3 linked regions of the Homo sapiens genome follow. The gene in region 1 interacts genetically with each later gene. Each region holds a gene or a part of one and is shown on either strand. Other genes may lie near its edges.

Region 1 (3,649 bases):
ACCATAACTACAAGTCTTACCTCTCCCATTAAGTCTTTATATACTTTTTTTCTGAGACGGAGTTTCACTCTTGTTGCCCAGGCTGGAGTGCAATGGCGCAATCTCAGCTCACTGCAACCTCCACCTCCCGGGTTCAAGCGATTCTCCTGCCTCAGCCTCCCAAGTAGCTGGGATTACAGGCGTGCACCACCACATCCGGCTAATTTTGTATTTTTAGTAGAGACGGGGTTTCGCCATGTTGGTCAGGCTGGTCTCGAACTCCTGACCTCAGGTGATCCACCAACCTCGGGCTTCCAAAGTGCTGGGATTACAGGTATGAGCCACTGCGTCCAGCCAAGCCTTTCCATACTAATTCTACTCATAATTCTACTTCCCTCAACACACAATCATTCCCCTAGAACTGATACTCTATGGATCCACTGCTAATCCTACCCAGGGCTCCATGCCCTCAAATCTTCCGCTGTGTACATGTGTTTATCCACTATCACATTTATCTACTATCTACTAAACACATGTGTACATGTGTTTATCTATTATCCACAGTGTTCTTGAAGGTCAGAGACCAATTTTTTTATTCCCTTATCTCTCTACTCAGTGTAAGTTAAGGCTTCAAACACAAAACACCCACACAAAAAACTATCCACCCCAGATTTCCTTACCTCCTTGTAAAGGGAATACAGGAAGACTGCTGTCTGTACAGTTTTCCCAAGGCCCATCTCATCAGCCAAGATGGTGTCAGTGCCCTGAGCCCAGGAGAAGCGCAACCAATTCAGGCCCTCCATTTGATAGGGGTGCAGGGTTCCACCTGTAGCATCCAGGTACTCTGGCTGTCGCTCATACTTCACTGTTGGCTGAAGGATGAAACAGAGAAGTCAAGAGCTGGCAAGGAACTCCCCTCCTCCCCTAATAGAGCAGCTGCTTCCTCCTCACTAGTCTTCACGGATCCTCTTGGGGAAGAGCTCCGGAAAATTCGGAGGGAAGAGATCCCCTATGATTACTGCAATTTCATGTTCAGTTTAGGGTCCTCCAGGAAACAGGGCTTAACCAGACCTGATTTTGATCCTACAGATCACTGAGGAAAAGCACGTCACAGACTCCCTACCAATACAATAATTCTACTAGTCAGGATCCACCAGGTAAATAATCGTTATGTCCCTCTTAGATTCATCTTTTTAACTTTAATCACCCTCAAATTACACTGTACAAACAAAACCCAGAGGAACTGAGCCTGAATTAAGCCAGATTCCTATGTAAGTGCATAAAAGCTAGGCTATGTGGCCCCTCCCCCCAGACAACACTTCTTCAATCATTCAAAATATACCTCCTTTTTTTTTTTCTGATGACAAAAGAAGAAAGTAATCCTAGTGCTTTCTGATATATAGAGATGTGGAGAAGTGGGGAAGCCGACTTTGTGAAGTAATCTCAGCTACAAAGTTACTATCTGCATTTCATTACTTAAGAGTACCATCATTAGACTGCAGCAAAGATACATTGTCCTACCCAACAAACTACAGTCCCTTCCACCCCCACTCACATCAACTGTTGGCGTTTCTGGAGGCCTCTCCAACTTCCGAAGCTTCACCTTCTTGAGCTTCTTGCCTGGTCGGCCTTCCTCACCCCTCATTAACTCCCTAAAGAAGAAAGACATCACACAGCTGCCCAAAATCCTTTTCTATAGAAGAAACAACTTGGCCAGGCACAGTGGCTCACACCTGTAATCCCAGCATTTTGGGAGGCCAGCACTTTGGGAGGCTGAGACGGGCGGATCACCTGAGGTCAGGAGATCGAGACCAGCCTGGTCAACATGGTGAAACCCCGTCTCTACTAAAAATACAAAAATTAGCTGGGCATGGTGGCAGACGCCTGTAATCTCAGCTACTCGGGAGACTGAGGCAGGAGAATTGCTTGAACCCAGGAGGCGGAGGCTGCAGCGAGCCAAGATCGCACCATTGCACTCCAGCCTGGGGGACAAGAGCAAGACTTCGTCTCAAAAAAAAAAAAAAAAAAAATCAGCTAGGTGTGGTGGCGTATGCAAATAATCCCAGCTACTCAGGAGGCTAAGGCAGGAGAATCGTTTGAACCAGGAAGTCGGAGGTTGCAGTGAGTCAAGATCACGCCACTGCACTACAGCTTGGTGACAGAGCAAGACTCCATCTCAAAAAAAAAAAAAAAGAAACAACTCTATGCCTCACCCAAAATCACTCACCTGTGATTCCAATAGCTCTGCTTGAACAGGTCGTAATCCTGGATCTCCACATCCTCACTCTCCCAAGAAGCCTGATCGTAAGGTAAGTCCCGCCACTTGATCAAGTAGTGGACGTGGCCCTTCTTGTCCACACTGCAAGTCCAGGAGAGAAAACCCTCAGAGCCAGAAAAGGCAACCCTCCTCACTTCCTCTCAAAAACTGGCAATACCGTTTGTTTCACACCAGACCTCTAGGTATGCCACAGATCACACGTTTTCAGAGCCTCTACTGTACCAGTCTCTGACCAAAAATTATCTCTAATTTATACTTTCCTAGAGCTCAAACACCAGAATTCAGTCAGTTAATAATTAACATAGAGTGTTGGCCGGGTGCAGTGGCTCACGCCTGTAATCCCAGCACTTTGGGAAGCTGAGGCAGGCAGATCGCTTGAGGCCAGGAGCTCAAGACCAGCCAGGCCAACATGGCGAAACCCGTCTCTACTAAAAAAAAAAAAAAAAATTAGCCAGGCATCAGGCCGGGCGCGGTGGCTCACGCCTATAATCCCAGCACTTTGGGAGGCCAAGGCAGGCGGATCACCTGAGGTCGGGAGTTCAAGACCAGTCTGGCCAGCATGGAGAAACCCCGTCTCTACTAAAAATGCAAAAATTAGCCGGGCATGGTGGCAGGTGCCTGTAATCCCAGCTACTCGGGAAGCTGAAGCAGGAGAATTGCTTGAACCCGGGCGGCGGAGGTTGCAGCAAGCTGAGATTGCGCCACTGCACTCCAGCCTGGGCGACAGAACGAGACTCCATTTCAAAAAAAAAAATTAGGCAGGCGTGGTGGCACACGCCTGTAATCCCAGCTACTCTGGAGGCTGAGGCAGAGAATCACTTGAGCCTGAGAGGCGGAGGTTGCAGTGAGCTTAGATCATACCACTGCACTCCAGGCTGGGCCACAGAGCAAGACTCTGTCTCAAAAAATATAATAAATAAATAAATAAATAGGCCGAGTGCGGCGGCTCACGCCTGTAATCCCAGCACTTTGGAAGGAGGAGGTGAGCGGATCACAAGGTCAGGCGATCAAGACCATCCTGGCTAACACAGTGAAATCCCGTCTCTACTAAAAATACAAAAAAAAAAAAATTAGCCAGGCATGGTGGCGATGGCCTGTAGTCCCAGCTACTCGGGAGGCTGAGGCAGGAAAATGGCGTGAACCCAGGAGGCAGAGCTTGCAGTGAGCCAAGATCACGCCACTGCACTCCAGCCTGGGTGACAAGTCTGTCTCAAAAAAAAACAATAATAATAAAATAAATAAATAAAGATAATAACATGAAGTGTCAGGCGCAGTAGCTCACGCCTGTAATCCTAACACTTTGGGAAGCTGAAGCAGACAGATTGCTTGAGCCCAGGAGTTTGGGACAGCTATGAGCAGTGATCACGACACTGCACTCAAGCCTGGGCAACA
Region 2 (3,649 bases), on another chromosome or scaffold:
AATTTTGTTTTTAATTTACATTAAACACGCACTAATATAAAAAAATTAGTTTGCAAGAGTTTCCAAAACTTAGCTATCTCTTTCATAGGTCTGAACTATAAAATTTGAAGTTTTAGGTATAATTAAAATGATATAATTCGGCCTGGTGCAGTGGCTCACGCCTGTAATCCCAGCATTTTGGGAGGCTGAGGCAGGTGGATCACCTGAGGTCGGGAGTTCAAGACCAGCCTGACCAACATGGAGAAACCTGTCTCTACTAAAAATACAAAATTAGCTGGGCGTGGTGGCGCATGCCTGTAATCCCGGCTACTCGGGAGGCTGAGGCAGGAGAATCGCTTGAACCCGGGAGGCGGAGGTTGCGGTGAGCCGAGATCACGCTCCAGCCTAGGCAACAAAAGCAAAACTCCGTCTCCAAAAATAAATAATAAATAAAAAATGATATAATTGTACCCGTTCTGTTCTTCAGGTCTCAAGTGGACTTAACTTTCCCTTAAACCATCTCTACCTGAAGTTTCCTCTTGGTTTATAGATAAACAATCTTCACCAGGCAGGGGACACCAGGCTATGGAGTGGATTTCATCATCATGGCCTCGAAGCCTATGAATAACTTCTCCTTTCTTACTGATGTCAATTATCACCACTATGCCATCCTTGTAGCTAAAAAACAAGAGTTAGAAATATTACTAAAAAAATGAAGACAGAACAGAGTCTCTAGTAAACATTTTGGCTTGGAGTTACCATTGGCGCATTCCTTAAAGTTAGGTGCATTTGGGGTGGCGGAGGAGGGAAGAGGACAAAAAATAATTTTGCTTTTTCCTTTTTTTAAAGTGCTCACCTTATGCCTCCTGGTTTTGTTAAAACCCTTCTCTCTATGATCAAACTCTTGGCACTAGGTAATACTATGTATGTTGCCTGGTACAAAACTCACAGTGGACCATGATTTTGTTCTAAGGGAATTTTCATAGTTTTTGCAAGGGTGCAGCAACTCTTCTTTTTTCCTTCTCTGTTGCCCAGGCTGGAGTGCAGTGGCACAATCACCACTTACTGCAGCCTTGACTTCCCAGGCTCAAGCAATCCTCCCACCTCAGCCTGGGACTGAGTAGCTGGGACTAAAGGTACATGCCATGCCCAGCTAATTTTTGTATTTTTTTGTAGAGATGAGGTTTCACCATGTTGCTCATGGCTGGTCTCAAACTCCTGGGCTCAAGCAATCTACCTGCGTTGGCCTCCTAAAGTGATGGGATTATAGGCATCAGCCACCACACCCGGCCAACTCTTCTAACTAGAGATAATTTTGTCCTAGTGCACTGGAAAATAATCTCTTTCTTTATAAGTGATACTACTTTTTAAACTGTGAACTTAACAAAAGTTGCAGAATTCTACACTCTAGACCTGCATATTCCAAGGCTGTCATTTTATGAATTCAAAAGAAACTGAGAAATTCTAATAGCTTTTTAAAAATGAATGACTTCAGATACATAAAAAAAGTAATCTACTACCCTGCCTAAGAAAAATAATTACCAATAGAGCTGAAGTCCTCTGTACATTCCACTTCAATCAAACCTCTCTCCTTGCCAGATCTCTTCTCCTTTTCTTCCTCTACCCAGAGGTCAAACTCTATTTGTGAATTGTGTTATATCATTCCTAGCCTTTCTTTGTATATATTCCTAAATAAGATATAGATTTTGCATATTTTAAAACTGCACATAAATGCTATCATCTATTTTCCTGCAGCTTGTTTTTTTCACTCATTCTGTTTGTAATTCATCCATGTTGATACACGTAACTCTAGTTCCTGGCCAGTCATTACACTATTGTATTAGTACTGCACTGTGTGAATATTTCAAAGTTTATTCATTTTCCTTTTGAAGGGCTTCCACTTTTTTACAACAAAAAAATGCTATTAATGTTCATGTACACATCTAAGACAATTTCAGGTTTGATGACTAGTAATGGAACTGCCAGGATGTTAAGATATATGCATTTTTATTAGAAAGTACAAAACTGCATTATACAAAGTGGCTGTACCTATTCACACTTCCTACACATTACAGCATTCGACAGGGAAGAACACCAGCACAGCTTTATTTATTTTTTTTTTTTAAAAGAAACACTAGAGTATGTCAACCTTTGAAGACCCGGACTTTGAAAACTGCCAAGTTATGCAACCTAATCACCAACAGATCAAGCTATTTAGAAATCTGAATCAAGCTTTCTGGGAATAATACTATTCTGAAGATCCTCCCCTGACTCCTGCCTACCACCTTTCTGTTCATCCTCTCTATCAACCCTACTACAACACTGCTCCCACTTCAAGAGACTGCCGATCCAGTCCCCTTCCATTTTCACTATCACTCACCCACACCTGTCTTTCCATACATCCCCCTACCCAATGCAGCACAGATTTCATGATCCATCACTATCATTGACTTTTTTTTTTGAGATAGAGTCTTGCTCTGTCGCTCAGGCTGGAGTGCAGTGGTGCAATCTCATCTCACTGCAACCTCCACTGCCCAGGTTCAAGCGATTCTCCTGCCTCACCCTCCTGAGTAGCTGGGCTTACAGGTGTGCGCCACCAAGTCTGGCTAATTTTTGTTTGTTTGTTTTTTTGAGACAGAGTTTCGCTCTTGTTGCCCAGGCTGGGGTGCAATGGCTCAATCCTGGCTCACCACAACCTCTACCTCCTGGGTTCAAGTGATCCTCCTGCCTCAGCCTCCCTAGTAGCTGGGATTACAGGCATGCGCCACCATGCCTGGCTAATTTTGTGTTTTTAATAGAGACGGGGTTTCTCCATGCTGGTCTTGAACTCCCAACCACAGGTGATTTGCCCACCTCGGCCTCTCAAAGTGCTGGGATTACAGGCGTGCACCACTGCACCTGGCCTGATTTTTTATTTTTAGTAGAGATGGGGCTTCACCATGTTGGCCGGGCTGGTCTTGAACTCCTGACCTCAGGTGATCCACCCGCCTCGGCCTCCCAAAGTGTTGGGATTACAGGTGTGAGCCACTGCGCCCAGCCTTATCATCAACTTTTAAAAATACCCGTACGCCCCGTCTCCTTCTCCCTCTCCCTCAAGAGTACTTACTCCACAAAGCCCCAAACCTGGCTGAATCCAACCATCTCCTTTCTCAAACAGTTTGGGTTTACTTTAAATTTATGGCCACGATTCTTTGTTTGCCACTCAACAGTGAACACTGGGCCTATAATTTTCCTTAGTACATTCGTTTTCCTATTCTCTTTGACCATTTTCATACCTTCTTTGCATATCCAGTTTCAACCCCATGATGAACTTGACTCTACCACTCTGACTTATGCCTCAATGAGAAAATCAGAAATACCAGAATAGAACACCTTTTTCTTCCAAGCACATCTACAAATCTACCTGCACCTATTTCTATATTCCCAGCTGTTCTTTCTTCTTGTCATCTGAATCCAATCCCCTCTTGACTTTTCAGCAATACCCCTGCATTTATCATAGTTTACTCCTGCAACAAGCTCTTCCTCTTTTCAAGCCTTACTTTCATCAGCATAAAAACAGGTCCCTGGTATTTTCCATTTAATACTCCCTTGACCCCATCTATCCCCTCTGGCTTCATGTATATGCACATTTTTACAACAAACTTTGTGAAAGAGTTGTTGTCTCTTTGTG
Region 3 (3,649 bases), on another chromosome or scaffold:
CCCACACCCAGAACTGCCTGGCACATGGTCAGTGTAGTCAGTCTTGTTGAAAGAGTGTCACCCTTGTAGGGCACACTCAGCCCTTCTCCAGCCACTGACCTCCCCAAAGCCACGCACACCCACAATCAGACCCACCCTCTCATGGCTTATCTTAGGACGAGATGCTGGCCCGCTTCGTGGTGGGCAGCCACGTCAGACACCACCCCAGCAACAAGGAGGAGGAGGGGCTGGCCAATGGCAGCGCTGCTGAGCCCGCCATGCCCAACACGTATGGCGTGGAGCCCCTGCCCCAGGAGGTCCTGAAGAAGTACATCATCTACGCCAAGGAGAGGGTCCACCCGAAGCTCAACCAGATGGACCAGGACAAGGTGGCCAAGATGTACAGTGACCTGAGGAAAGAATCTATGGTGAGAGCCCAGGCAGAGCCGGGAGGTGCTATGCAGAGAAGGAAGTGCAGTGTGAGCCTTCTGACCAATGCAGCGGGGGTGGTGGTCAGTCAGGCCAAAAGGTGCCAGAGCAGGGAGGCATTAAAAAAAAAATGTAGGTGCCAGGCACAGTGGCTCACGCCTGTAATCCCAGTACTTTGGGAGGCCGAGGCAGGAGGATCACGATGTCAGGAGTTTGAGACCAGCCTGACCAACATGGTGAAACCCAAAAATTAGCCGGGTGTGGTGGCACATGCCTGTAATCCCAGCTTCTCAGGAGGCTGAGGCAGGAGAATCGCTTGAACCCGGGAGGCGGAGGGTGCAGTGAGCTGAGATCGCACCACTGCACTCCAGCCTGGGTGACAGAGTGAGACTCCATCTCAAAAACAAAAACAAAAAATGAAAGTTGGGTACAGTGATTCATGCCTGTAATCCCAGCACTTTGGGAGGCCAAGGCAGGAAGATTGCTTGAGGTGAGTTCAAGACCAGGCTGGGCAACATAGTGAGGCCCTTTCTCTACAAAAAATGTTTTGAAACTTAGCTGGGCCTGGTGGTTTGTGCCTGTAGTCCCAGCTACTCAGGAAGCTAAGGAAGGAAGATCTACTTGAGCCCAGGAGTTCGAGGCTACAGTGAGCTATGATGGCACCACTGCACTCTAGCCTTGGTGACACAGTGAAACCCTGTTTCAAAAAAAAAATATTTTTTTAAATGATAGGTATTAATATATACCTTAACCATTTTGTTTTAGATGAAATTTAAATGTGCATTCATTTGTCTCAGTGTAGGGCCAAGGCCTTAATTGTTGATGTGCTTATTAAGTTCCATATTGACTTTGTGTAAATTTCACTCTAATGAACACAAGGTCTTTGGCTCATTCATAGTGGAATGGAAACTTAAAGCAGCTTGCAAGCCATGGGAATGCCGAGTCCTTGTAGATTGCTGCCTCAGCCACACCCAGTCAACACAGCAGCTTTTCAAATTTCTGCCTTTTAACTTTACCAAGTTTTTTCAGATCATTCAATTTAGTTTTCCTACAAACAACGACCTTTTTTTGCACTTACATTGTACAGGATTATTCAATATTTAGTGTGTGACAATAACCAATACAGCTGGCCACAAATACAACAGCCTCTGAGATGCACAGAAGTCAGCTGGTGGGAGCAGAACTGTGCAGGTGTGATGGTGACAGGCCGTAAGCATGCAGCATCCACTGGCATCCTCTGATTTCCAGGAGGGATAGGAAGTGTGCATTCACTGGGCAGCGCAGTCAAGCATTCTGCATTTCTGCTGGGGCACTGTCAGATGGGTCTTCTTGGCTCTGGGTGCTAAGAGTGCCGCTGCTTTATTTTCCTTGCTTCTCTTTCCTGCCCGTGAAAGACCTGACACTGTGCTTCTCTCCAGGCGACAGGCAGCATCCCCATTACGGTGCGGCACATCGAGTCCATGATCCGCATGGCGGAGGCCCACGCGCGCATCCATCTGCGGGACTATGTGATCGAAGACGACGTCAACATGGCCATCCGCGTGATGCTGGAGAGCTTCATAGACACACAGAAGTTCAGCGTCATGCGCAGCATGCGCAAGGTGGGTGTGCTCCGAGGTAGGGGCCTGATGGGCAAGCTCAGTGAAGGAGGCCACACGTGGGTATCCAGGGCTCTGGCCTGGACGTGCACCCAGGAGCGGCAGCCTGTCTGACCTGGGTGCTGGCACGTAGGGTAAAGGGAGTGTGGCAGGCGTAGTGGGAGCGGGTGTTTGACTGAGGCTTTTTTCCTGCAGACTTTTGCCCGCTACCTTTCATTCCGGCGTGACAACAATGAGCTGTTGCTCTTCATACTGAAGCAGTTAGTGGCAGAGCAGGTGACATATCAGCGCAACCGCTTTGGGGCCCAGCAGGACACTATTGAGGTCCCTGAGAAGGACTTGGTGGATAAGGTATGGGCCCGGAAGGGAGGTGAGGGTTGGGGTATGCTGACTTGGGAGCTGCCAGTCTCCTGATGGGGGCTCCATCATAATGGGTCATGAAGTGGGTGGGCCTTGGTTGACAGCCATTTATTGAATGCTTACAGTCTGTTGAGTCCAGTTCTGTGCCTGTAGTCTGACAGCAGGGGAGTGAGGTGAGTCCTGTTACTGCCTTCCTGTTGTGCAGAGGTGGAGACAGATACAGGGCAGCCAAGTAACTTGTCTCAGTTTACACGCACAGCTTGTACAGCAGAGATTTGAAGCCCCTTAATCGGCCTCTCCACCCCTGGATATTTTCCTCCCATAAATGGAGGTGATGGTGTCTGAAAGTGCACTGTAACTGGGGCGCTCTGGAAACAGCCTGTTCTCACACCACTGATGGCTCACTGGACACTTCCTCCTTGCAGGCTCGTCAGATCAACATCCACAACCTCTCTGCATTTTATGACAGTGAGCTCTTCAGGATGAACAAGTTCAGCCACGACCTGAAAAGGAAAATGATCCTGCAGCAGTTCTGAGGCCCTATGCCATCCATAAGGATTCCTTGGGATTCTGGTTTGGGGTGGTCAGTGCCCTCTGTGCTTTATGGACACAAAACCAGAGCACTTGATGAACTCGGGGTACTAGGGTCAGGGCTTATAGCAGGATGTCTGGCTGCACCTGGCATGACTGTTTGTTTCTCCAAGCCTGCTTTGTGCTTCTCACCTTTGGGTGGGATGCCTTGCCAGTGTGTCTTACTTGGTTGCTGAACATCTTGCCACCTCCGAGTGCTTTGTCTCCACTCAGTACCTTGGATCAGAGCTGCTGAGTTCAGGATGCCTGCGTGTGGTTTAGGTGTTAGCCTTCTTACATGGATGTCAGGAGAGCTGCTGCCCTCTTGGCGTGAGTTGCGTATTCAGGCTGCTTTTGCTGCCTTTGGCCAGAGAGCTGGTTGAAGATGTTTGTAATCGTTTTCAGTCTCCTGCAGGTTTCTGTGCCCCTGTGGTGGAAGAGGGCACGACAGTGCCAGCGCAGCGTTCTGGGCTCCTCAGTCGCAGGGGTGGGATGTGAGTCATGCGGATTATCCACTCGCCACAGTTATCAGCTGCCATTGCTCCCTGTCTGTTTCCCCACTCTCTTATTTGTGCATTCGGTTTGGTTTCTGTAGTTTTAATTTTTAATAAAGTTGAATAAAATATAAACGCTGGTATCTGTTGGCTTCCATTCCGCTTTAGTAAGTAACCTGGACTTCCGCTGAAGGCCCTTTCCACCTTCTCCGTTCAGAG

Evidence for each region.
Region 2: changes in CHD4 (region 1) and GEMIN5 together harm fitness less than expected from each alone (positive genetic interaction), as found in Homo sapiens cells (one large-scale study listed by BioGRID).
Region 3: changes in CHD4 (region 1) and MCM2 together harm fitness less than expected from each alone (positive genetic interaction), as found in Homo sapiens cells (one large-scale study listed by BioGRID).

The regions. Positions count from the first base shown.
Region 1 is NC_000012.12:6,593,800-6,597,448, forward strand, and holds part of CHD4 (chromodomain-helicase-DNA-binding protein 4), read right to left. Parts: intron 2,339-3,649; coding exon 2,207-2,338; intron 1,632-2,206; coding exon 1,535-1,631; intron 852-1,534; coding exon 660-851; intron 1-659. UniProt on the Homo sapiens protein: ATP-dependent chromatin-remodeling factor that binds and distorts nucleosomal DNA. Acts as a component of the histone deacetylase NuRD complex which participates in the remodeling of chromatin.
Region 2 is NC_000005.10:154,931,594-154,935,242, forward strand, and holds part of GEMIN5 (gem-associated protein 5), read right to left. Parts: intron 658-3,649; coding exon 506-657; intron 1-505. UniProt on the Homo sapiens protein: The SMN complex catalyzes the assembly of small nuclear ribonucleoproteins (snRNPs), the building blocks of the spliceosome, and thereby plays an important role in the splicing of cellular pre-mRNAs.
Region 3 is NC_000003.12:127,618,872-127,622,520, forward strand, and holds the end of MCM2 (DNA replication licensing factor MCM2), read left to right. Parts: intron 1-155; coding exon 156-407; intron 408-1,826; coding exon 1,827-2,009; intron 2,010-2,201; coding exon 2,202-2,357; intron 2,358-2,791; coding exon 2,792-2,902; 3' UTR 2,903-3,565; downstream 3,566-3,649. UniProt on the Homo sapiens protein: Acts as a component of the MCM2-7 complex (MCM complex) which is the replicative helicase essential for 'once per cell cycle' DNA replication initiation and elongation in eukaryotic cells.